Linked DNA regions of Homo sapiens: region 1 is linked to region 2. The links come from fine-mapping of genetic effects on gene expression. A gene starts in region 2. The other region holds a variant in brackets. All regions are shown on one strand. Distances are between the middles of the regions.

Evidence for each region. PIP is the estimated chance that this variant, and not a neighbour inherited with it, causes the effect.
Region 1: its variant is fine-mapped to the expression of CCNJL in left ventricle (GTEx, PIP 0.96).

What each region holds. Positions count from the first base shown.
Region 1 is chr5:160,540,942-160,552,659 of GRCh38, forward strand. No RefSeq gene overlaps it. Among named protein-coding and RNA genes, the nearest start is that of MIR146A, 61 kb to the left of the region's middle. The variant G/A (reference allele first, on the strand shown) is at 6,463.
Region 2 is chr5:160,307,551-160,319,268 of GRCh38, forward strand. CCNJL (cyclin J like) reads right to left here and starts at 5,014. Exons shown (of 6, transcript NM_001308173.3): 1 at 4,814-5,014; 2 at 4,308-4,422. The coding sequence starts at 4,373. RefSeq lists silencers at 4,943-5,062, 5,173-5,232.

The DNA.
Region 1 (11,718 bases), 230 kb after region 2:
GATATTTAGTAGTTGACCTGAGTCTTAAAGGATGGCTTAAAGTTCTCCAGTTGGATAGGAAGGAAGGAAGAAGGAATGAAGGAGAAAAGAAGGAGAAAGCAAAACATGAGCAAAGGCATGATGGCATGGTTGGATTTGGGGAATTGGAAATAGATTGGTGAGAATAGAGGAGGACGGCCGAGGGGCTGGAGAGTCAGAAACAGAGACCTCATCATGAAGGGCCTTGAATGCCACATTTTGAGTTTGAACTTTTCTTGGAAATGGTAATGAGCCATCAAAAGAGGATAAGCCAGACAGTAACTGGGTTTATAAAAAAGAATGTTGAATTAAATAAAACAACCATTCTGTGATTTTCATTTGTTCATTCACATATGTATCTATGAATGCACACATATATATGTTGGGTTATGTGATGCCAAATATGAGGTTGATTGAAATTGCTCCATCTTAGATTATTTTGGCATCTGGACTCAATCAAAAAACTGAAGATTTAAGGCAGAGGCCAGAGCACTAAGTGGCTTGGTGAAGGGAGCTAAAGACCCTGAGTGGTAGGAGGCTTTATGGACACAGAGATCTGAATTTGATTCCCACGTTGTCACTTAACAATTTATACCCTAGGACAAATATCTTACTTTCTCTGACCCTCCTTATAAGTAAAATGGGAATAATAGTCCCTACTTGAAAAGTTCGTGTGTGGATTAAGTGAGATCATGTGGTAACATATTTAGTAGGGTGACTGTCACATGCTAAGTGCTCAGTAAATATTAGTTACTTTTATGGTGCACTAATTTCAGGCTCACGTATCTTCTACATTACTTTGTGGTATGGCTGCACACGGAATACCCAGTTTTTAAAAACGTGCATACGTTGGCCCCACCCACGGGGATTCTGATGTAATTTATCAGGAGGATGGCCTAAACGTTTTCATAGCTCCCCAATGTGATTCTCATGCACAATGGAGGTTGCTGCTGATTCTCAAAGGGCTAGACTCTGAAGGAGCAGCATTAGCATTGCCTGGGAACTAGTAAGAAATATAAAACTTCTCCCATCTACTGAATCAGAAATTCTGGGATTAGGGGTCAACAATCTGTGTTTTAACAAGCTCCCAAGGTGATTCTAACATACACTTAAGTTTTCAAACCACCAAACTAGGGCTAGAAATTCAGAGTGGTCAGTTTAGCCTTTAGCATCTCTTATACCTGACATGATATATATCTGAAATCCCCTGACCATGCCCCACTCCAAACAAAATATAGGTGCCAGGTACTGATGATATGCAGCTGGATGAGGAAGACAGAATTCCTAGTGCCATGGAATGCCCAGTGTAAACACAAACAAACAAAAAAACCTAGGTAGCTGCTCTGGCCTTGGGCAGACTTGCGAAGGGTGACTTAGGTCCTTAGCGTGTCCATATCATACCTTTCTCTTCCTTAATCCCCTTCTTTCTGTCCTGCCCACGTGAAAACTTGCTCTCAGGTATGGCTCTAACTTTAGTCATTTTTAATTTAGTTCAAGCTATTCTGAGGATGAATCATGTTTGCAAGCCAGACAGTGTGCCCCTGGGGGAAGGGACTGTGTCTCTATTTCTTTGTATGGACACGCTTCTCTCCTAGCCCTCTTCCCAGTTCCATTTCCTGCAATAACATGTTGCTTGCATTTTAAGTAGTATAGTGCTGAAGAGCACTAGCTTTGGCACCATGGACTTGGGGGTTTGAATCTGCAGTTTCTTAGCTGTGTAATCTGGGGCAAATCAAGGCACTTCTTGGCAGCCTCAGTTTCCTCATCTATAAAATGGGCTTGATAATTTTTAACTTCAGACAGTTGTGAAGACTGTATAAAATAATGCATGGAACATGAGGAAATCTAGGATATAAAGAACACTCAATGAATGGCATATTGTTATCAATAGTTATTAAACTTCCTTTTCTTATATGGAAGAATAGGTTTTATCTGGAGTATATGATAAAATGAATGTCAGACTCCAGTGAATTGTTTAGAAGCTTTGGGGAAGAGTCTGTTTTCCCTGAAGCACAGTTCCAATATTGATAGTCCCTTTCCAAGCAGCCTGGAACTCACATCTTCTAATGCCTCCAGAATCACTCATTGCCAAACCCTTCCGATGCTTTCCTATGGTCTCACCAATGCTGATGCTAAAACCAACTCGAGCCAGTCCTAAATCTTCTCTTCAGGGAGTTTAATGCCTTGAAAAGGCTTCAAGCTTATTTTAATTGAATTATTTCATTCAGTGTCAGGCTTAAAGAGCACCCTACAGGGCTCCAGCTCTGAATGAATGCATTAAAAAATCAAATAATACAGATTATGGCATAATCCTTGAGGGAGATATAAATAGAATCCCCTCTGTTGCCTTTTTATTTCTCTATGTTGGTTAATAAACACACTTCTATAGCATTTGCTTTTCCCTTTTCTCCCCTAATGCTCTTTAGTTGCCTTCGTAAGGAAGAGAATAAAACTCAGAATATAACAAAATGTTGGGGAAGAATTTACCATATGAATATTCAGGGCTGGAAGGGATTTTAGACATTATCTGGTCTAATTTCTACATAATTTACCTGGTGTGGGCAGAGGTGTAGAGAAGGAGATGGGTTGGCCAAGGTCATTGAACTTCTCTTCCAGCTCAACATCACTCATCATCAGAAAAATGCAAATCTGAACCACAATGAGATATCATCTCACCCCAGTCAGAACGGCTATTGTCAGAAAGACAAAAAAATAACAAATGTCAGTAAGGCTTTGGGGAAAATTATACACTGTTGGTGTATACACTGTTGGTAGAAATGTAAGTTAGTACAGCCCTTATGGAAAACAGTATGAAGGTTTCTCAAATAATTAAAAATAGAAATAACTGCGAGATGGTCTGGCAGTACCCACCATTGGGTGTTTATCCAAAGGAAAGGAGATCAGTACATCAAAAGGACAATTGCACCCCCATGTTTATTGCAGTGCCATTCACAATAGCCAAGATGTGGAATCAACCTAAGTGTCAATCAATAGATGAATGGATAAAGAAAAGGTGGTATATATATGCAATAGAATACTATTCATCCATAAAAAAGAATGAAATCCTGTCATTTGCAGAAATATTGATGGAACTGGAGATCATTATGTTAAGTGGAATAAGCCAGGCACAGATAGACAAACTTTGCGTGTTCTCACTCATAAGTGGGAGCTAAAAAAGTTAATCTCATGAAGGTAGAGAGTAGAATGATGGTTACCAGTGGCTGGGAAGGGTGGAGGTGAAGATGAATGGAGGTTGGTTAATGGGTATAAAATACATTTAGATAGAAGGAATAAGTTCTAGTATTGGCTGGTATAGTAGGGAGACTATAGTTAACAATAATTTATTGTATATTTCAAAATGGCTGGAAGAGAACATTTGAGATGTTCATAACACAAAGAAATGACAAATGTTTGAGGTTCTGGATAGCCTAAATACCCTGATTACACATTGTATGCATGTATCAAAATATCACCTGTACCACATAAATATGTATAATTATGTTTCAATAAAATTGAGATTAAGGACCGTATATTCTCAGTATTCATTGTGTGTATATATGGGATTTTGATTACAGAATACTGTGTATAGACACACACAGACATATACACATCAGTGGAGACAACTCCATTCATTAGGCTGTTTCTTGGGGAGCACACTTTGTCTTAAAAAAAAGACTTTGCTTAGGGTAGGGTGAATCTTAAGTATTAAAAAATGCTGCTTAATTGTTCAAATAGTAAAGCAGGTGTTTTGGAGGGAGGCAGGATCCAACGAGGCTGGACATTGTGTGGGAAGAAGAGAGAAACTCGATATTCTTTCCTGGCCTCCCTTCTACTCTTTCTTCTTGACCCCTCCCTGCCTTTTCCTCAAGCAAAGCCTAGGAGGGCCTTAGAGAACAGAGACCTAATGAGGCAAATGAGAAGTGGTTACTATGGGGCATGTGATGTGAACCCCCTTCTCCATGTTTCCTCTGAGATCTTGTCTCACCTGTTGTTCTCTGCTTCTTTCAGTGAGTGTGGAAGATGTACTTAAAGTGTTGACAGTTGTTGGGCAATATAAATTTGCCTTCTTTCCCTTTTTTTTTTTCCTTCGTTGCCCAATTAAAACCTTTTCGCTGCTTGGGTGAACTCAGAGGTAGTGATCAGCCTCTTCTGGATCTTCCCTTGAGGCAGGTTTTTCTGGGGTGTTCCTTCCTCATGGAGCAGGGCATGTGGCTGGCTTCAGCACTGGCCCTTCACAGCAGTAGCCATAGGCGTGGGGGCCTTTTTGGTCATCATTATGGGAGAGTCTGTTCATGATGCTCTGATAAAAGTTTATAACCTGGGGTTTTGGATCCATACCATATTCATAGTATTTCATTTTCTCTCTATCTTGGAGAACAGACTTGGGGAAAAGAAAGACAAAACCTGACACATTAAGTTCCTGCAAAGTTTGTTTCATTTATTTTTCACATCAGACCTTATTTTGCAGGTGAGAAAACTGAGGTATAGAGAGCTTGATGATGTACAGAAAGTTACATAGTAGAGCAGGGATTATCTAAGATCAGTCTGATACCAAAGTGAGCTTGTTTGTTTTTAATAATTCCAATGGACCAGAGATGAACACTTAAAGAATCTAGCTGGAGTTAGTTAACTTAGGGGTGGGAAAAATGTTTTACTTATAGAAAATATCCTTCAAAAGAAGGAAATCCTGCCACTTGTGACAACATGAATAAACTCAGAGAGGATATTATGTTAGGTAAAGCAGAAAGACAAACACTGCATGTGCTCACTTATATGTGGAATATAAAGAGACTGAACTTATAGAAACACAGAGTAGAAAAGTGGTTGCCAGAGACTGGGGGTGGGGGAACTGGGAGGATTTTGATCAAAGGGTAAAAATTTTCAGTTACAAGATAATAAGTTCTGGAGATAAAATGTACAGCATGATGAGTATAGTTGATAATAATGTATTGTATGCTTGATATTTGCTAAGAGAATAGATCTTAGATCTTAAGCATTCTCTCCACATGCATGCACGCATGCACACACACAGGCACAAAAGTAGCTAGTCATGAGTCATTTAATGACAGGGATGTATTCTGAGCAGTGTGTCATTAGGTGATTTCATCTTGGTGTGAACATCATAGAGTGTGCTTACACAAACCTAGATGGCAGAGCCTACTACACACCCAGGCTGTATGGTCTAGCCTATTGTTCTTAGGCTACAAACCTGTACAGCATGTGCTAAATACTGTAGGCAATTGTAAAACAATGGTGTTTGTGTATCTAAACATAGAAAAGGTAAAGTAAAAATGCAGTATAATCCTATGAGACCACTGTTGCATATGCCATCCATCCACTGAAATGTGATTTGGCACATACCTGTATAGGAGGTATGAATGTGTTAATTAGCTTGACTGTGGTAATCGCTTCACAGTGTATATGTATATCAAAACATCACATTGTGCACACTAAATATCTACATTTTTTGTCAATTATAACTCAATAAACATGGGGGGATATCTACAAGCCTCTATTTTTTCCTTCTGAGCAAGAAATAAGAAGAGACAAAAACTGCCACTTGAGGGGATGAGGGTAGTAATTAAGCAAAAAAGAATCCTTGACAATGATGAGACATTCATTGGACATTGGAATCGGTTGCCAAGTATTTAAACAGGCTGAGCTTTTCCTTAAGGGTGATCTTATCTATTAACTGCCTGAGAGGGGAAAGCATAGACAAGATGATGTCTTCAGCCCCTTGAAAGCTGTGTTTGGCAAAGAATGGTCTGAGACCATGTATATCAAAATTGCCTGGGGTGCTTGAACTGGAGATTTTCATTTTTTACAAGTTTCCTTTATCAATCATGGTCCAGTCAGAAAAACAGCAATGGAGAGAGATTTAATGCAAGGAATCAGTTACTGTATCAGTTATTTATTTTAGGGTAACAAAACATACTAATACCAGTAGCTTAAAACAGAATGTTAGAAATAAACTTTCGGTGCTGCAAAAGAAATAGCACTTGAGCATAAATTTTTTCAGCAAGGCAATTTACTTCTATAGAAGGGTGCATCTCACCAATGGAGCAATGGTGAAAGCACACCGGACAAGGGAGGGGAAGGGGTTCTTATCCTAATGCAGCTGGTCCCTACTGCTGTGTCTTTCCCCTATTGGCTAGGGTTGGACCACACAGTGTAAGCTAATTACAACTGGCTATTTTAAAGAGAGCAGGGGTACAAGCCAGAGTGGCGGGGTGAGTAGTTAGGCGGGAAGGATGGTTACAGAACAGGTGACTCAGGATGACTAGGAACAGAGCAGGTGACCAAGGATGACTAAGGTCAGAGCAAGTGACCAAGGGTGACTAAGGTCAGAGCAGGTGATAGAGGCTGGGAGAGGGTTGTTTACTGAAACTGGGGGCAAGGAGAAGTAAAGAACAAGGGAGTTAAACTTTAAAATGAGGAACAAAG[G/A]ACAGGGGAGCTGAATATACTGATACATTGGTTTTTTATCTCAGAACTCATTGCACTTAACAATTTACAGGCTAAAACCTTTGAAGAGAAATTTATTATATCCTACACAGAACAATCATTTATTACTGCTCATAAGTCTACTGGTAATTGGAATTGTACTGGGTTCCCTTGTATGCCTGAGGTGAGTGTCAGGCCAGTGGGGTGGCTCTGATTCTAGGGTCTGGATGGTGTATTAGTCTGTTTTCATGCTGCTGATAAAGACATACCCAAGACTGGGTAATTTATAAAGAAAAAGAGGTTTAATGGACTCACAGTTCCATGTGGCTAGGGAGGCCTAACAATCATGGTGGAAAGCAAAAGGCACGTCTTACATGGCGTCAGACAAGAGAGAATCAGAGGGCCAAGCGGAAGGGGTTTCCCCTTATAAAACCATCAGCTCTTGTGAGACTTATTCACTACTATGAGAACAGTATGGGGGAAACTGCACCCATGATTCAATTATCTCCCACTGGCTCCCTCCCACAACATGTGGGAATTATGGGAGCTACAATTCAAGATGAGATTTGGGAGGGGACACAGCAAAACCATATCAGATGGTTATTGGCTGGGGCCACTTGCTTCTACTCCGTGATGTCTCTCATCTTCTAGCAGGCTAGCCTGGGCTTGTTCATATGGCAGCACAGCAGGATTCCCAAAGTAACAGTGGAAGCATGCAAAGTCTCTTTAGATTTAGAATCAGAACTGATACCATAATGCTTTGGCTGCAATTTATTGGCCAGAGAAATTCATAAGGCCAGCCCAGATTTAAGAGGTAGAGAAAAGACCAGCCCAGACTCAAGAGGTGGAGAAATGGAATTAATATTTTGATAAGAGAAGCTTTAAAGTCACATTGCAAAGCATTGTGGAGAGAGGGAAGGGATTAATTGAGACCACTTTCTGCCAATCATCTACCATAGTTATAAAGGTGTTAAGAGGGCTGGAGGAATAGAAGGAAGGAGTATGCTAAGGATTAAAAAGAAGAAGGAGGTCTCTTGGTAAGGATGCTGCTGGTCTGGAGCTTTCATGGGCAGTGCTGGGGCCTCAGAGGGACATGTGTCATGCTGCTGCTGCTAGAATTGCTGAAGAGACAGCAAACTCTGCCAATGCTAGAATCAGGATGACTTTTTTTTTTTTTTTTTTTTTTTTTGAGACGGAGTCTGGCTCTGTCGCCCAGGATGACTTCTTTCTTGCTGCCAATGAGTCACATTGGCTGAACCTAACCAACAGCCCTGGCAAGGGAATCTGGGAAGTGCAGCATGTAGGCTTCCAGGGCTGGCAGTATAGAGCAGAGTACAGAAGCTGTGGGATTCTTATCATTGCAAAGACCCATTGCTCTAATATGCTATGATTCCAGGGCAGTAGTAAAATGTAAGCCCCATTCTATAGAGGAACACTGGCTGAGTCAACTGTGAAGTGGTGAAGGATTCCCAGGGAATTACTCTTGTTGATTTCGCACTGTGGCTTGGCTATGGGTAGAGTTGTGATTAGATAACTCATTTGAAAGGGCAAGAAAGTCAGATTTTAATCACATCATTATCTTGAAAGAGGTTATCTCTATGGAGAAAGAATAGATATAAAAATCTGATGTTTGCCAGCTGATGTGCTGTTTGGTGAATTGTCTTAGCTATTAGGACAGAGAATATTCACATGCATGTGTACGTGAGTGGGGTGTAGAGGGATGGACAATCAGAATGAAAAACTTCAAGGATGTGAATCACATGGAAATGATTAAGCAAAAAGCCAGTCTGCCAAAAGTCTGTCAGAAGACACAACTCTAGATTCTTTAATGAGAAAAAGAGATTTATAGGCATATTATTAGAGAAATCCAGTAGCTGCCATTTAGAGCCGATTACAAACTACTCCAGTTGTGTGGACACCCACAGGATGGGGTAAGGGGCAGGAAGGCAGAAGAGAGGGGAACAAATAGCACAAGGACATTTGCTACTGGGTAGTTTATAAAAATTCCACACTGAACACCTCAGATGCTTAATTATGGATCCTGTTGACATTTAAACACACAATGGACTGATGTGGAAGACTAATGTGTTGAAAATATGCATGACTTTCCTATAAGAACTATTTATCAATGATTTACCCTGGTCAATTGCTGTTTAAAATTGGCTTGCAAATGTGAAAAAACATAGCCACATAATCTTAGCTCTTTAAGACACTTTAGAAATCACTGGGCCGGGCGCAGGGGCTCATGCCTGTAATCTCAGCACTCTGGGAGGCCAAGGCGGGTGGATCATGAAGTCAAGAGATTGAGACCATCCTGGCCAACATGGTGAAACCCTGTCTCTACTAAAAATACAAAATTAGCTGGGTGTGGTGGCACACGCCTGTAGTCCCAGCTACTCGAGAGGCTAAGGCAGGTGAATCGCTTGAACCCGGGAGGCAGAAGTTGCAGTAAGCCAAGATTGTGCCACTGCACTCTAGCCTGGCGACAGAGTAAGACTCCGTCTCAAAAAAAAAAAAAAAAAAAAAAATCGTTGACCCCTTTCCCCTCATTGTGCATATAATGAAACTGGAGCCCAGAAACTAAAGCAGATAGTCTGAGGCCACACAGCTGTCTAGAACTCAAGCTTCATGGCTCCCAGCCCAGTGGGTTTATATTCCCCCCAACTTTGACAATATTTGTACCTTGTAACTTTTTTTTTGTTTGTTTTCTTGAGACAGGGTCTCACTCTGTAGCCCAGGCTGGAGTACAGTGGTGTGATCATAGTTCACTATAAACTTGAACTCCTGGGTTCATGCAATCCTCCCACCTCAGGTGCCACCATGCCTGGCTGTACCTTTTGTTTTGACAGAGGCTTGGTCTATATCTAAGTGAAACTTGAATGCCATGTTTTCTAGATTCATCAGAATCACCTATGGGGACTTTTTCAAAATAGATATGACTTAGACCCAACCCAAGTCTTCAGAGGCAGAACTCAGAGGTGAGGGAGCAGAGACTTAGGAGTGTTTATTTAAAAATAAACCTTGTTATGAGATTCTGAAGCCCTGCCTGCCATTTCCCTTGCCCCACCTTGTGCTAAGAATATATTTTAAGGCACTGTTTAGCAGAAAGGAGATTTCTTTCCTGTCTACATACTTTCAGTTGGGTAAGTCTTTTGCCCAAAGCTGATCCTCCACTGAGGGACTTCCCGGGAGGCTCACATGGAATACACACCCTCAGTAGAGATCTCTGTGGGCACGTCCTTTGCATTGAAGGATCAGCATGGAGTCATGATAAAGGCATTAGCCATCATCAAGTTGACTCCTTCAAGCTTCTGGAGTCCAGAGAAGTGTGGAATGATGTCCAGTTCAGGCCACCTTGAGGACTGATCCCCAGGCACCAGGCTGTTGGTGTGTTCACTCAATGGTGAGTGCCAGTTACAATCAGGGAGGGGAGCCAGCGCTAGGGATAAGTGGGTCTGAGGAGACCTTGTCTTTCTTGTCCAGTGCAATATCTGCAGCTCCTAGAACATTTCCTGGCACATGCTAGGTGTTCAGTAAATATTTGTTGATTGAATGAATGAAACGGAGTCCCTTATGGGTGTCAACGGTGAAACATCTGATTTTAATGTATCTTGAGTCACTCCATGTTCTCTTTCTAGAAGTGTGGTTGGATTCTGAGTGTAGTTGGGATTCATCCAGTAAAGCTCCATGAGGCTTAATATGTGATGATAAATCATAACCCTCCTAGGTGCTCAGAATCAATTTCACATCTCATCTGTTATCATGAGCAGAAGGTGTGAGAAAGTCCCCTTACAGCGGTAATACATCAGCTCACAAAAATCAAAAATGCCTGAAGATTAGAGAAGGGAACACTGTTATAGTCCATGGTGCTTAATCAGCTACCCAGACATTGATGGATTTCAGGGGATATTTACATCTGAATCATGGCATCCAGAATGTCCCAAGCAGAACCCATAGTTTATGGGCAGCATAGAAGCAATTTATAAAATTCATTTCTTACTATCTATAGTCAGAAACTAGGTCTCTCTTTGTAGAAATATTCTCTAACTAGAAAAATAAGAACAGAACTGGAGATGAAGCACTCTCTAGAACAATGAAAGTGCAAGGCTGCCAGAATCCTCACTGTGCCCATGACAGATAGGACTAACTGGTCGTAGTTTACTTTCCTGCCATGCCTGGGAGCAGCCTCATTGCTGCTTCTTCTTCTTTTTTTTTTTTTAAAGTTTTATTTTAACTTCAGAGGTATCTGTGCAGGTTTGTTACATAGGTAAACTTGTGTCATGGGGGTTTGTTGTACAGATTATTTCAGGTATTATACCTAATATCCATTAGTTATTTTTCCTGATTCTCTCCCTCCTCCCACCCTCCAATAGGTCCCATTGGGTGTTGTTCCCCTCTATGTGTCTATGTGTTCTCATCATTTAGCTCCCACTTGTAAGTGAGAACATGCAGTATTTGCTGTTCTGCTCCTGCGTTAGTTTGCTAAGGATAATGGCCTCCAGCTACATCCATGTCCCTGCAAAGGACATGATCTTGTTCTTTTTTAGCCTCATTGCTTCTTAATCCAAGGCTCTAAGAAGACACTGCTGGTTGATCTGAGGTAGAATGCTGAACTGAAACTCATTGACCATCACTGATCTAGAGTTTGTCTTTGATTATTATTTCTCTGGAAAGATATTAGCAGGCAATAAGAGAGAGTAAAGGGGAAAGCAAATGAAATACCAGGGGTTTGGAAAGAATCTTGAATTAGATCAGCTGGTCCTTTCCCTTTCTTCTGGGCAGGGTAATATTCAAAGTAATTGACTGAAGAATTCCTCAATGGCAGTGTTTCACTAATGGAGATTTTGGAGTCTATGCATCAGAATCACACTGGTGATAATGAAGGTACTTGTGCTTCTCTGAAGACTTACGGAATCAGGACCTCTGGGTTTGAAGCCAAGGACACTGCATTAGGACAAGCATCCCAGTGTATCTTAGTGACTTTAAAGTTGGAGAGACACTGCCCTATGGAGACCTGGATTCTAGTCCCAGCTCTGCCATGCAGTTGCTTTGTGAACTTGGGAACGTCTCTTTCCTAAGCCTCAGTTTTGTCATCTTAAAGAGGAATAATAACATTTGTTCCATCTGTCTGCCTCACAGGGCTGTCATGAGGCTCAATTGAGATGAAGGCACCTGAGAATGCTTTGGAAAGAAGTAAGTGCTGTAAACATGGGATATATTTTTGTCCACCTGTTAAACTTGATAGAGAGTTGGGAAACT
Region 2 (11,718 bases):
TTTAATCTGGACAGACCTGGCACAGACTTGGTTACCAGAAAAACATCACTAGCAGCCTCCTCACTGGTGACGCCAGCCTGGTGACAATCTACTCCTCCTTTTGGTTCAGGGAAGAGGGTCAAGGGGCACACGTAGCAGGCAAGAAACCCCACATCCCTGTACTGGCTGGCACTCCCACCCCCAGCAGAAAGGTCAGAGGAGCTGAAGGGAGCGGGGTCCTAGGTGGGCTTCTGCAGATGCAGCAGGGACAGGAAGAAGGATCCAAGGAGGAATTTAAGGGCTGAGCATGGGATAAAGGTGGCCTACAGGAAGGGGAGGGAGAGATTTCTCCAGAGCAATTTGGGCTGGAGGAGGGTTCAACTCCCCACATTCACCCATTGGGATGCCAGGCTGCTTAGAGGGTCTTACCAATGGGGTCTCACTCCTGGTTCCCAGCCCTCAGTAGATACATGATTTTTGGTGAACTAGTCCCTTTCCTGACTTCAACACCATCATAGGACCAATGGTCCAAGTGGCTAACAGTGCCTTTCTTACAAGGATTACCCATCACATCTGTGGACCCCTTGGAGGGTGGTCACAAACCCTAAGCCTTACTCTGAGCAGCACTATGTGAACGGGCCATCACTGTCTTGCAGCAACCCTAAGTGGAGAGGTGCAATGCCTGCCAAGTACCCACCATGCACCTCACACTGTTCTTAAGTTATCTCACTTAATCTTAACATTGCTGTAAAACGTTTCTCCCAGCTTACAGAAGAGGAAAGCGAAGACTGACTTATTCATTCTCCTTGTCATTCCATACACATCGGGAAGCTGTGTTCATGGCACTGAGGCCCCCGCAAGGAAGAAGACAGACACAGGTCTCTTCTCGTGTAGCATGTATTCTAGTGTGGGAAGAAAGGCAGCAAACAAACGAAAAATAACTTCAGGCCAGGCACGGTGGCTCACGCCTGTAATCCCAGGACTTTGGGAGGCCGAGGCTGACGGATAACGAGGTCAGGGGTTCTTCGAGACCAGCCTGACCAACAGGTGAAACCCCGTCTCTACTAAAAATACGAAAATTAGCTGGGTGTGGTGGCACATGCCTGTAATCCCAGCTACTCAGGAGGCTGAGGCAGGAGAATGGTGTGAACCCGGGAGGCGGAGGTTGCACTGAGCTGATAGTGCCACTGCACTCTAGCCTGTGCGACAGAGTGAGACTCCGTCTCAAAGAAACCAACCAACCAAACAAACAAAAAACAGAAAAACACTTCAGATCCTGGTAAATGCTACAAAGAAAAAGCAAGGTGATTTAATAGAGTGACATGGAGAGGCAGCAATAGATTAAGGGAGACAAGCAACCATGTGAGAGTCTGAGAAACACAGAATCCAAATAGAGGAAAGAGCCAGTGCAAAGACCCTGAGACATGAACAAGCTTGACTTGTTCCAGGAACAGAAAGGAGGTCAGTGTGGCTTAAGAGCAATGGCATGGAGGGTAGGGAAGGGGTAAGAGACAAGGTCAGAGAGCAGGCCAGAGCCAGGCTATGCTGGGTATTCCACGCAGTGGTAAGGACTGGGAATTTTAAGTGCAGTGAGATGACATTGGAGGTCTTTAAGCAGAGAATGACACAATCTAAATTCTGGCTATTCTGGGAAGAATGGATGATAGGGGCCAGATTTAGAGAGGTTAAATGAGCAGATCAGGGTTTCACTTCCATCACTAGCGTGCATGCAGTACCAAGACTTGTTTCCATGGTGTCAAGTTTTTGATACCCTGTAGTATGATGCCAGACTGGAATCTCATATTTGACAAACTGGGGCTCCCAACGTCTCAGTGATCTCAACTTCGCCTCCTGTGTCGGTCAGGTGAGGATAATTGCTTGTGGTTGTATGGAAACAGTTACACAGCACATATGTAAACATGCTTTGTATTCATCAGGCAACATTCAACTAAGAGTGTCTACTGTGTGCCACGCTCTTGTAAAGTTGTTCTACAGTGTTAGAAACATATTATCAGAGTAGACATTTGAGAAAAACAATTACCCTGTCTGAGAAAAACAAAATGCCAGCCCTCATTCCTCAAGAAAGGCGAGGCTAGTATGGCTACTAAGTTCCCCTATTCTTCACTCTTCTTGCCAAACTCCATGAAGCCAAATTTTTGAAGAAGCATTTTCTTCTTTGAAGTGGGAGAGGAAATAAAGTAAAGGAGAACAATAGCAGTATTTTGAGGAGGTGGGACATTATAACCAAAGGAACTTGGGATTTGTCCTAATAAGGCCAGCTTTAAGTCAAGGTTGACCTTGGCCATCAGTCCTTGGGTGAGCTTTCTATTTCTAACCTGCAAAACTGGGACAAACTCATCGTCTCTCCGAGGTGGGCAGCCCAATAGTAAACTCATACGGCACTATGACATGGCTATAGCAGTTCATGGAGCCTTTCTTGCTTCTTTGAGCAGCCGAAGGAACATTTAGGACATCCTCCCTTATGTATAAAAGGTTGGGCATTCTCAGGTAACTAAACAAATGGCATTTATTGCTCTTAGAAATCCTTCCCTCTAGAAAGGGGCAAATCAGGTAGAAGTCGTTCCTCCTAAGCTATGAGCAGAAATGACAACCACTTGAGTCTATGATAAACAAGGAAGCCCAATTTCCACGGCAGTCCTCACTAGCTCCATTCAGCCACCTCCTCCAGAAAAGGGCCAGGACCATACCCCTACCACTTTCCTTGCTTTTCAACTGAACCAACAAGACCTGGATTTCTTCTTGTCCAGATGCCTAGAATGTGCCACACGTTGGCCACTCTGTTCTGGGAAGAAGACCAAGGGAACAGATGAAAGCCACAGCCTTGCCAAGCAACGCAGGACAAAGACAGGTCAGCAGGTACAGAAAGAAAAGAAAAAGGCATTAATTGGACAGGAAGACAGCTACTCAATGAGGTAAAAACACTGAGTAGCTGGTGACCCTTTAAGCAGAACTCCTCCAGACACTCGGAGCAAATGCACTGACTGTGAAACCTGTGTGGGGGCTCAGGTACTGCACTAGGAAGACCTTTTCCTCCCTGTATTGGGCGCAGTAGTGTCCCCCCAAATGTCATGTTAATCTGGAACTTCAGAATGTGACCTTACTTGGAAATGGAGTCTTTTCAGATGTAATTAAATTATGATGACATCACATTGGATTAGGGTGGGTTCTACTCCAATGATCGGGTATCCTTGTAAGAAGAGAAAACAGACAGACAGATAGCACCATGTGACAGTGGAGGCAGAGACTGGAATGATGTACCTACAAGCCGAGGAATGCCAAGGATGACCAAGCACCAGCAAATTTAAGAAGGAAGAAGGAAAGATCCTTCTCTAGAGCCTTTTGAGAGTCATGGCCCTGCTAACACCTTGATCTGGGATCTTCAGCTTCCAGAGCTGAAATAAATTTCTGTTGCTTTAAGCCCTCCAGTTTGTGTGGTCCTTTGTAATGGCAGCCCTAGGAAACCAATCCATTCACTACTTCACACCTGTTCCCCAAGCCACCCCTTGCCAATCTCAGCCCAGGGACTGGAGGCAAGACACACAGGCCATGCCTCCAGCCCACCTGGACTCTTCCACCTTCCCAATGCCCCTCAGCCCTTCTCTCCTTGAGGGGAGGGGTGTGCAGGGATCACATTTCAGCTGCTCCCACCCACCTTCTGCCACAGGAGGCAAACCGGCAGGGGAGTTTTTGTTTTCTTCCCTCAGCCTCCCTGTTTTGTAGCCTCTTTCAATTATACAGGTGTTCCTTAAATTTCATTCGGTCCCATTCTAGATATACACATAGATACACGTATTTGGCCATAACCATGTATTCCCTGTACTACCACTTATCTTTATATAGAGTTACTACTTTTACTTAAATTTGTTTTAAAATAAACTGCGACATCATTATTACAATAAATGGAAAATCGCAAACGCAGAGCTTGCTAGATACATACACATTCTTAAATTACACATTAGAATGAATACACAATATTTTTTAAAGACCCCTTCACGTACGGTTTAAAATAACCTAGGGTGGCAATACTATAGGAAACACTGCCTTAGAGGTACAGTGGCTGTCTCTGACTAGTTGGCCCAGAGTTCTGAGCTCCTTATCAGAAAAACCAACTTCAATCTCTCCCATCTCCAGTCTCTAACCCCCGCCCCCCAATTCCGCTCAGACACTCCGGGAGAAGGTAAAGGGTAAGAGGAAAAAAAGGCACCCGGGAGTTCTGAGTTCCCACGCAGGCGACCTGAGAACACGAAGTCGAGACCGAAGGAGACTGTACCCAGTCTTGAGAGTGACAAGGGCAGGGAGGGACTGACCTTCTCGCGCAGGGTGCAGTGGACGTCCGAGGCGACGCGCCCTTCCCACCACGGCTCATCCATCATCGCGTACGCAGCGCCGCTATCCGAGGCTACCCGGCTCTCAGGGCGCACCCTGCGTGGACACGGGCAACTTCAGCGGCCAGAGCGTACCCCGGGCTCCGACCCCCGGTGTCCCTATCCTCTCTCGCCCCTGGCCCCGGGCCCCGGCGGGCGCCCCCTCCTGCGCCGCTCAGAGGAGCTGGAGGTCGCCTCTGGTCCGCGGAAGGCTGCGGTGCCCCCTCCCCTCTGCTCGCCGGACACGGGGCGATATGGAGCTGTGCAACAACTTGCAGAATTTTTATCTTCCCTTTTGCAAAAGTTGCAGAGAAAGTTGTCAACTCCGCTAGCTCGCTCGAGGCTGGGGCTCTGGCGGCGGCCACAGGCTCGCCGTCCCCAACTCCTCCCCCGCCGCCCAGCCTTTGTCCTGCTCCCACATCCTGCCCTCGAGCCGGGGCGAAACTCACGCATCCTCTCTGGGCGTGGGGGGCTGCGAGCGCCGGGCCCCTCCCAGTGCCGAGCCAGCCGTGCCCTCTGGTGCCTGCCGGCGGTTGGACCCTCGTCCGAGGCGCTCCGCACTCCCGACGGCCGCCTCCGCAGCCCGACTAGCCCCCGCCGTCGCCGCGCCCCTGCGTGCGCTCGGGTCCCGCCGCGGCTCGCAGGCTCCCGGCCGCCGGGGGCCTCCCTCCCTCGCTGGGGGAATTGGGGGCCGGGCCTCGCGCATGCGCTGCCGGCGCCCCCGCGCCCCGCGGGGCGGGGGGCTGGGAATTGGAGCCTTTCTTTGCCAGCTCTGGCTCCGCTTCCTGCCCGCCCTCCTCCCTCGCTTCGGCGGAAAGCTTCTCTCTCACCTTCGCTGAGGCTAGTGGTAGCCTTCTGGGCACCCCTCCGGCTTGCGCAGGGAGCAAAGGGACCGCGGCGCCACCTGCGCGCACCACGCGTGAAACGTGCGGACAGGACGCCCCCAGAAAGTTCTGCCTTCCGCGCGCACTGCTCTAGCCATCCTTACGTCGGTTCCACCTGTTTTTCTTTCTCTCTCTCTTTTTTTTTTTTTCCTGTTTTTGTTTTTTGTTTGTTCTCCTCTTCTTTGAAACCCGCCCTGCCATGGGGAGGTAGATTTCCAAACGGACAATTCCAGTGAAAGCTGCAGAAAAACCACCCTTGTTCACCCACGAGTCCCTAATTCTAAAGGAGCCTAAGTCACTGGTATTATTGTGCTCCTGCAGAATATGAACTATGCCTCACATTGGAGGAAAACCAGTCTTTTTTTGCCGGGTCCGGTGGATGGAAAACATTGTCTTTTTAATTCAATTGCTTGCTTTTGGAAAGTCATCCTTTTGAGTCAGCCCATCTGATGGCATAGCATTGGGCTATCCTTCTTGGCTGATTGATTTTTGTGATAGTTTTGGAGATTCACAAATTTGGAATCAAATCCACTTACCAACTGGGTGATTTTTGTCAAGTTCCTCAAACTCAGAGCCTCGTGTGTAAAATGGAAATAAAAGTTAAACCAACCTGCTGAAAATTAAAGGAGATAATGCGTGTAAAGGGATAATCACTACACCAGGTATTAAGTGAACACTCAGTAAACAACTGTGACTGAAGAGCCTTTAGTTTCTGACTGCTTTCCTGCACATAAAGACACACCTGGGAAAAAAAAATTAAATCAGCTTTGATAAGCTTCAATTGGACCTTGAAGAGCAGTTTTAATGTAAAACAAACGAACCATTTTAAAAGTGTAAGATACCTAAAAATAAACTGAATAAATGTGCAGGCTCTTAATGAAGACATTACAAAGGTTGAAACATAATAAAGAAGGCTTGAAGGAATAGAGGCACAAACACCAACTTAACCCAAATTACTCTATTTAATAAAATTTTAATGGTTGTGGGTAGATTGGAGGAGGGGGCACTTAACATGTTTTCTAACCTTCAAATGGGAGAATATCTGCGAGAAAAGCTAAGAAATTTATATTTTAAAAATGGGGGGATGGCGGGGCGCGGTGGCTCACGCCTGTAATCCCAACACTTTGGGAGGCCAAGGGCAGGCAGATCACCTGAGGTCAGGAGTTTGAGACCAAACTGGCTAACATGGTGAAACCCTGTTTCTACTAAAAATACAAAAAATTAGCCGAGTGTGGTGGTGCACGCCTGTAATCCCAGCTACTTGGTAGGCTGAGGCAGGAGAGTCACTTGCATCTGGGAGGCGGAGGTTGCAGTGAGCCGAGATCGTGCCACTGCACTCCAGCTTGGGCAACAAGAGTGAAACTCCGTCTCAACAAACAAACGAACAAAAAAACTGGGGGGACAGACCTGTATTATCAAATCTTAAAGCATATTGCAACACTATAGTTAAAACAGTGTAGTGTTCACACAAGAATGGATGGATTAAGCATCAGTGGAATAACTGAAAGTCTAGGAAAATTTAATATATTTAAAAATTCACTGTATGATAAATGTGGCATTTCACTTTGTTGGGACAAGTATAAACGGCTAAATTATTTAATAAATTAGGTTGGGGGAAAAAAGTAAAACTAAGGACTTGTTTAAATATCACCAAAATAAATATAAGAACTCAGAGAACTACAAACAAGCAAATCACAAGAGGATAAGAAGAAAACATACACGAATTATACGGAGGGGAAGGCCTAGATACTAAGACATGGGAAGAAACCAAAGGCAAGGTGAGTAGACAAATTTGAATAAATATGCAGGATCTAGATACATCAATTATCATTGCCAAAAAGGCAAACGACAAATTTGAGAAAATATTTTTAACAAATGTGACAAAAGGTTGATGCTACTTTCTAGACCTCTGATAAATCGGTATGTAAAACATTAACACCCTACGTGCAGAAATGGATGCAAGACATGAGTAGGTATGCCGTCAGAGAAGGAATTCATATGGATAGATGTTATTTTTAAAATGCTCATACTCCCTAGCATGCAAATTAAAAGCTTTTTTTAAAAAAACAGTGGGGTACTTTTTTGTTAAGGAATTTTGGTCAATCCACAGTGTTGTTGGGAATATAAATTAAGACCATCTTTCTGAAAGACAACATAAATCAAAACATTTTAAACTGTATTATTTGATCCAACTCTTCCACCTGTAGAAATTTATTCTTTTAAAAAAAGCAGATTTATTTCAAAGGTGTTTCATCAAAAATGCTTTTTCATCATAGTGAACCATTAGAACAGGGAACTGGTTTAATAATTATTTGTCTCTTAAAAGCATTTTTTAAAGGATGCATGATGAATTGGAGAAAATGTTTATAATTTATTAAATAAAAAGGATAAACTGGGCTGGGCACGGTGGCTCATGCCTGTAATCCTAGCACACTGGCAGGCTGAGGTGGGAGAATTGCATGAGGCCAGGAGTTCAAGACCAGCTTGGGCAACATAGCAAGATCCCGCCCCCGCCCCCCAACACACACACACACACACACACACACACACACACACACACTAGCCAGGTGTGGTGGTATACACCTGTAGTCTTAGCTGCTCAGAAAGCTGAAATAGAAGAATCACTTGAGCACCAAAGGTTGAGGCAGCAGTGAGCCGTGATTGTGCCACTGCACTCCAGCCTGGGCAACAGAGCGAGACACTGCCTCTGAAAACAAAAACAAAAACAAGAGAAAGAATAAGCTGTCTTTAAGGGGATGAATAAAAACAAAAAAAGATTAGAGTACGATCCCAGTTAAACTACATTCATGCACACACACATATGCAAAAATATTAACTGTGTAATCAGAGTGGTAGGATTATGGTAAATTTTAATTTACCTTTTTTCCTAATATTTCTGTATTTTCTAAATTTTCAACAAGAAATATGCATTATTTCATAACCAGAAAAAAAGAGTGAATGTTACTTTAAAATAATCACATGACATATCAATATGTACTAGAGGGTTCTTCCATTCAACAACAATGAACAGCATTGTTGTTTTGTTTTGTTTTTCATAGCAGTATTATTTATTTCCCAGTCTTTCTATGCTGGGTACATTGAAAGAAGACAGGCCTTTATTATTCACTAATATGTACTGCCCTTTTCCTAAACTTCAGCTATCAATTATCAGGAGTTTGGATAACTAAGAGGGAAAGCAGAAGCTTTGGGCTTTTCTCCAGGGGTATTTCAGTAGGATTCTAAGCATACTCATTCCACACCCCTTTGTGTATCATTCTCCAGAGTCCCTCATTTTCTCAGTATTTCTGAAGAGTAAATATACATTGCACCAATAAACAGATGGTTTTGTGCTGAGTCACTGTCCACAGGTGCCCTTAGCAGAGAAGGCTTCCTGTGCCGGGCAGCAGGAAGTACCAATGCAACTGGAATCACTTCTCCCATCCACCCCCAACCAAGACAAGAAGAAGCATTCATTAAGCCATTCAAAAACTAAACTTTCATTAAGTGCTTACCATGAGTCAGTTACCATCCCTCCACCCTCAACCTCTGAAGCTCACAGGTTGGGAACAACAGATTTAGAGCAAGTGCATTCTACTTATCTTCAGCTTTCTTATATATCCCTAAAAAAAAAAAAATCTGCCCTTTTCAATCTTCCTTAGAGGACAAATTGGTCTAATATTTTCACTGTGATATTATCAACTGCCCAGTTTGCACTGAACTTTCCTTTTGCTTTTCATATGATACAAACTCTCAAACATGGAAAAATGTACACGTTCTCCCTCTGGTCCCAGGCCTTGTTCTCCTCCTCCCCAATGATAACCAGAGTCTTATGTTTCCTTCGGAAGTGATTTATGCATTCACCAGTGTAGACATTCATGCCTTTTTCTCCTTTTACATGAAAGGTAGCATACTCTACACATCCTTGTGTGCCTTACTGTTTTGTGTTTTGTTGTTTTATGGCAGTGCCCAAAGAACTGCATGGCATCCCGTAGTTCCATAGTATGGATCCATCATGATGTGTGGACATTTAGCCTGGGAATGTCCATACATTTCTAGCCTTCTGCTTCCATATAACCACACTGCAGTGAATATTTGCTTCCATGTAACCATACTGCAGTGAATATCCTGACAGGGTCAAGCATATAAATTCCTCAAATACTCAACTGTCCAGGGGAAGTTGAGGCATATACTTTGAATAGTGTTTCCTCATGGTGTTAATGGTTGGCACTGCTCCATTCAGGACCAAAAGCATGAAGCCTGGCTCAGTTTATAGAGACAGACGGAAGACATCTGCCTTATTACCACTTTGATCTTTAACCAAAAACCAATCCAATGCCTTTAAATGATTTTTAATCGTGTGCTCTACTTAGTCAAGAGAACATTTGCCAAATCCTTTATGATCCTTGACTACAAGTTCTTGAGATATGAGTCGGCAGATTAGGTCTGAGAACAAGGCAGGAAGAATAAAAAAGCAGCATTTTGCAAACAGAACTCAAAGCCTAGGACATTCATAAAGCTGGTCCACATTACTTTTTTAAATTTAAAAAGGCACAGAAGGAATAAGTGAAAAATAAACCTCCCTCTCACGCAGGGCCAGCTCCATCCATATAGAAAATTTTATCGTTGAACCTGTGTTTTGTAAATGAAGTCCTTCAGGACAGTGAAGCATGCAGGGAGCAGAGGAGACACATGATAAGTGTCTGCTGTTCCGTTCTCTGTTTGCATGTACTATATCCCGTGCCTCATGAGCATAGAATTCCAGTGGACCTGCGATGCATGGAGTTTGGTGACATTCAAAGGGAGCAGAAGGTCAGTGGATCATGTGTACAAGTGGGCATGGGGTGGGGGGAGTACCTGAGAGGCTGTGCTTTCTATTTGAACTAGAACTTGCTTTGGAACACGGAAAGAAGGTGTTATCAGTTTCTGGGGCTGCCATAACAAAGTACAACAATGGGATGGCTTGAAACAAGAGAACTTTCCTCTCTCACGATTCTGGGTACTAGAAGTCCCAAATCAAGGCATCAGTAGGGCCACACTCCCTCTGAAAACTCTAAGGAAAAATTCTTTTTTCCTCTTCCTGGTTTTTGGGGGTGGCCAGGTATTACAACTGGAGTCCCTTGTTCTTCCTTGGCTTGTAGCTACAGCACTCCAGACCCTGCCTGTGTCTTCACACGGGCTTCTTCTCTTTCTCTTCACGTAGTCTTCTTTTTCTTCTTCTTTTTTTGTTTTTTTTTTTTGAGATGGAGTCTCACTCTGTTGCCAGGCTGGAGTGCAGTAGCACAATCTCGGCTCACTGCAACCACTGCCTCCAGGGTTCAAGCAATTCTCCTGCCTCAGCCTCCCCAGTAGCTGGGATTACAGGCACGCACCACCATGCCTGGCTAATTTTTGTATTTTTAGTAGAGACAGGGTTTCACCATGTTGACCAGGCTGGTGTTGAACTCCTGACCTCAGGTGATCTACCCACCTTGGCCTCCCAAAGTGCTGGAATTACAGGCGTGAGCCACCACGCCGGGCCATGTCTTCTTACAAGGACACCGGTCATATTGGACTAAGGGCCCACCCTACTCAATATGATGTCATCTGAACTAATGACATCTGCAATGAACCTATTTCCTAATAAGGTCACATTGTGAGCTACTGAGGGTTAAGACTTCAACTTATCTTTTGTGGAGGTACACCATTCAATCCATAACAGAAGGCAATAGTATTCTAGGAAAGATGAATGACCGGGGAACCCTATCATATGCTTTCTTAGGGGTGTTGTGTCCCTGTGTTAGGCAACCATGTATTATGACATAAATAGAAAGGGAAAAATGGGGCAACCCATAGTTCCTCTTCCTTCAGCTCTTCCTTACTCATTAGTATTATGCCTAAGGTAGAGCGTGTTGATTGGATGTGCATGTATCGAGAGTGAAATAAAAATAGTTAACTTAATTTTGTGGAGTGTTTTCACCATTACGGAAAGAATGAAATATATATGCATGTTCAGGCTACAAAATAGAATTTGTGTAATTTCAGTGATTTTGCATGTGAGCTGTGTTCTTATTTTTGCATTTAAAACTGGCATGCATAATATAAATGATAAAAACTCTTGCTAATACTTTACATTTTGAATTTTTCTTTGCTGAAAATGACATTAAATAGCATATTTTAAAAATATCTCAATAAAAAATTTTTAGAAAGAACTCACAACAAGTTGAGAGAGGGCTCCGTAAACTGTCCAAAAACTATCTCACACTGCTCCCACTCTGTCCCACCTGACTGCCATCCCAGAAGAAATTCATTTATGTTTCCTTCCAAAGATATTCTCTCTTTCTCTTTTGTTTTAAGAGATGGAGTTTTGCTCTGTCATCCAGGCTGGAGTGCAGTGGTATGATCATAGCTCACTGTGGCCTAGAACTCCTGGGTTCAACAAGGGATCCTCCTGCCTCAGCCTTTTGAGTAGCTGGGACTACAAGCAAGGGTCA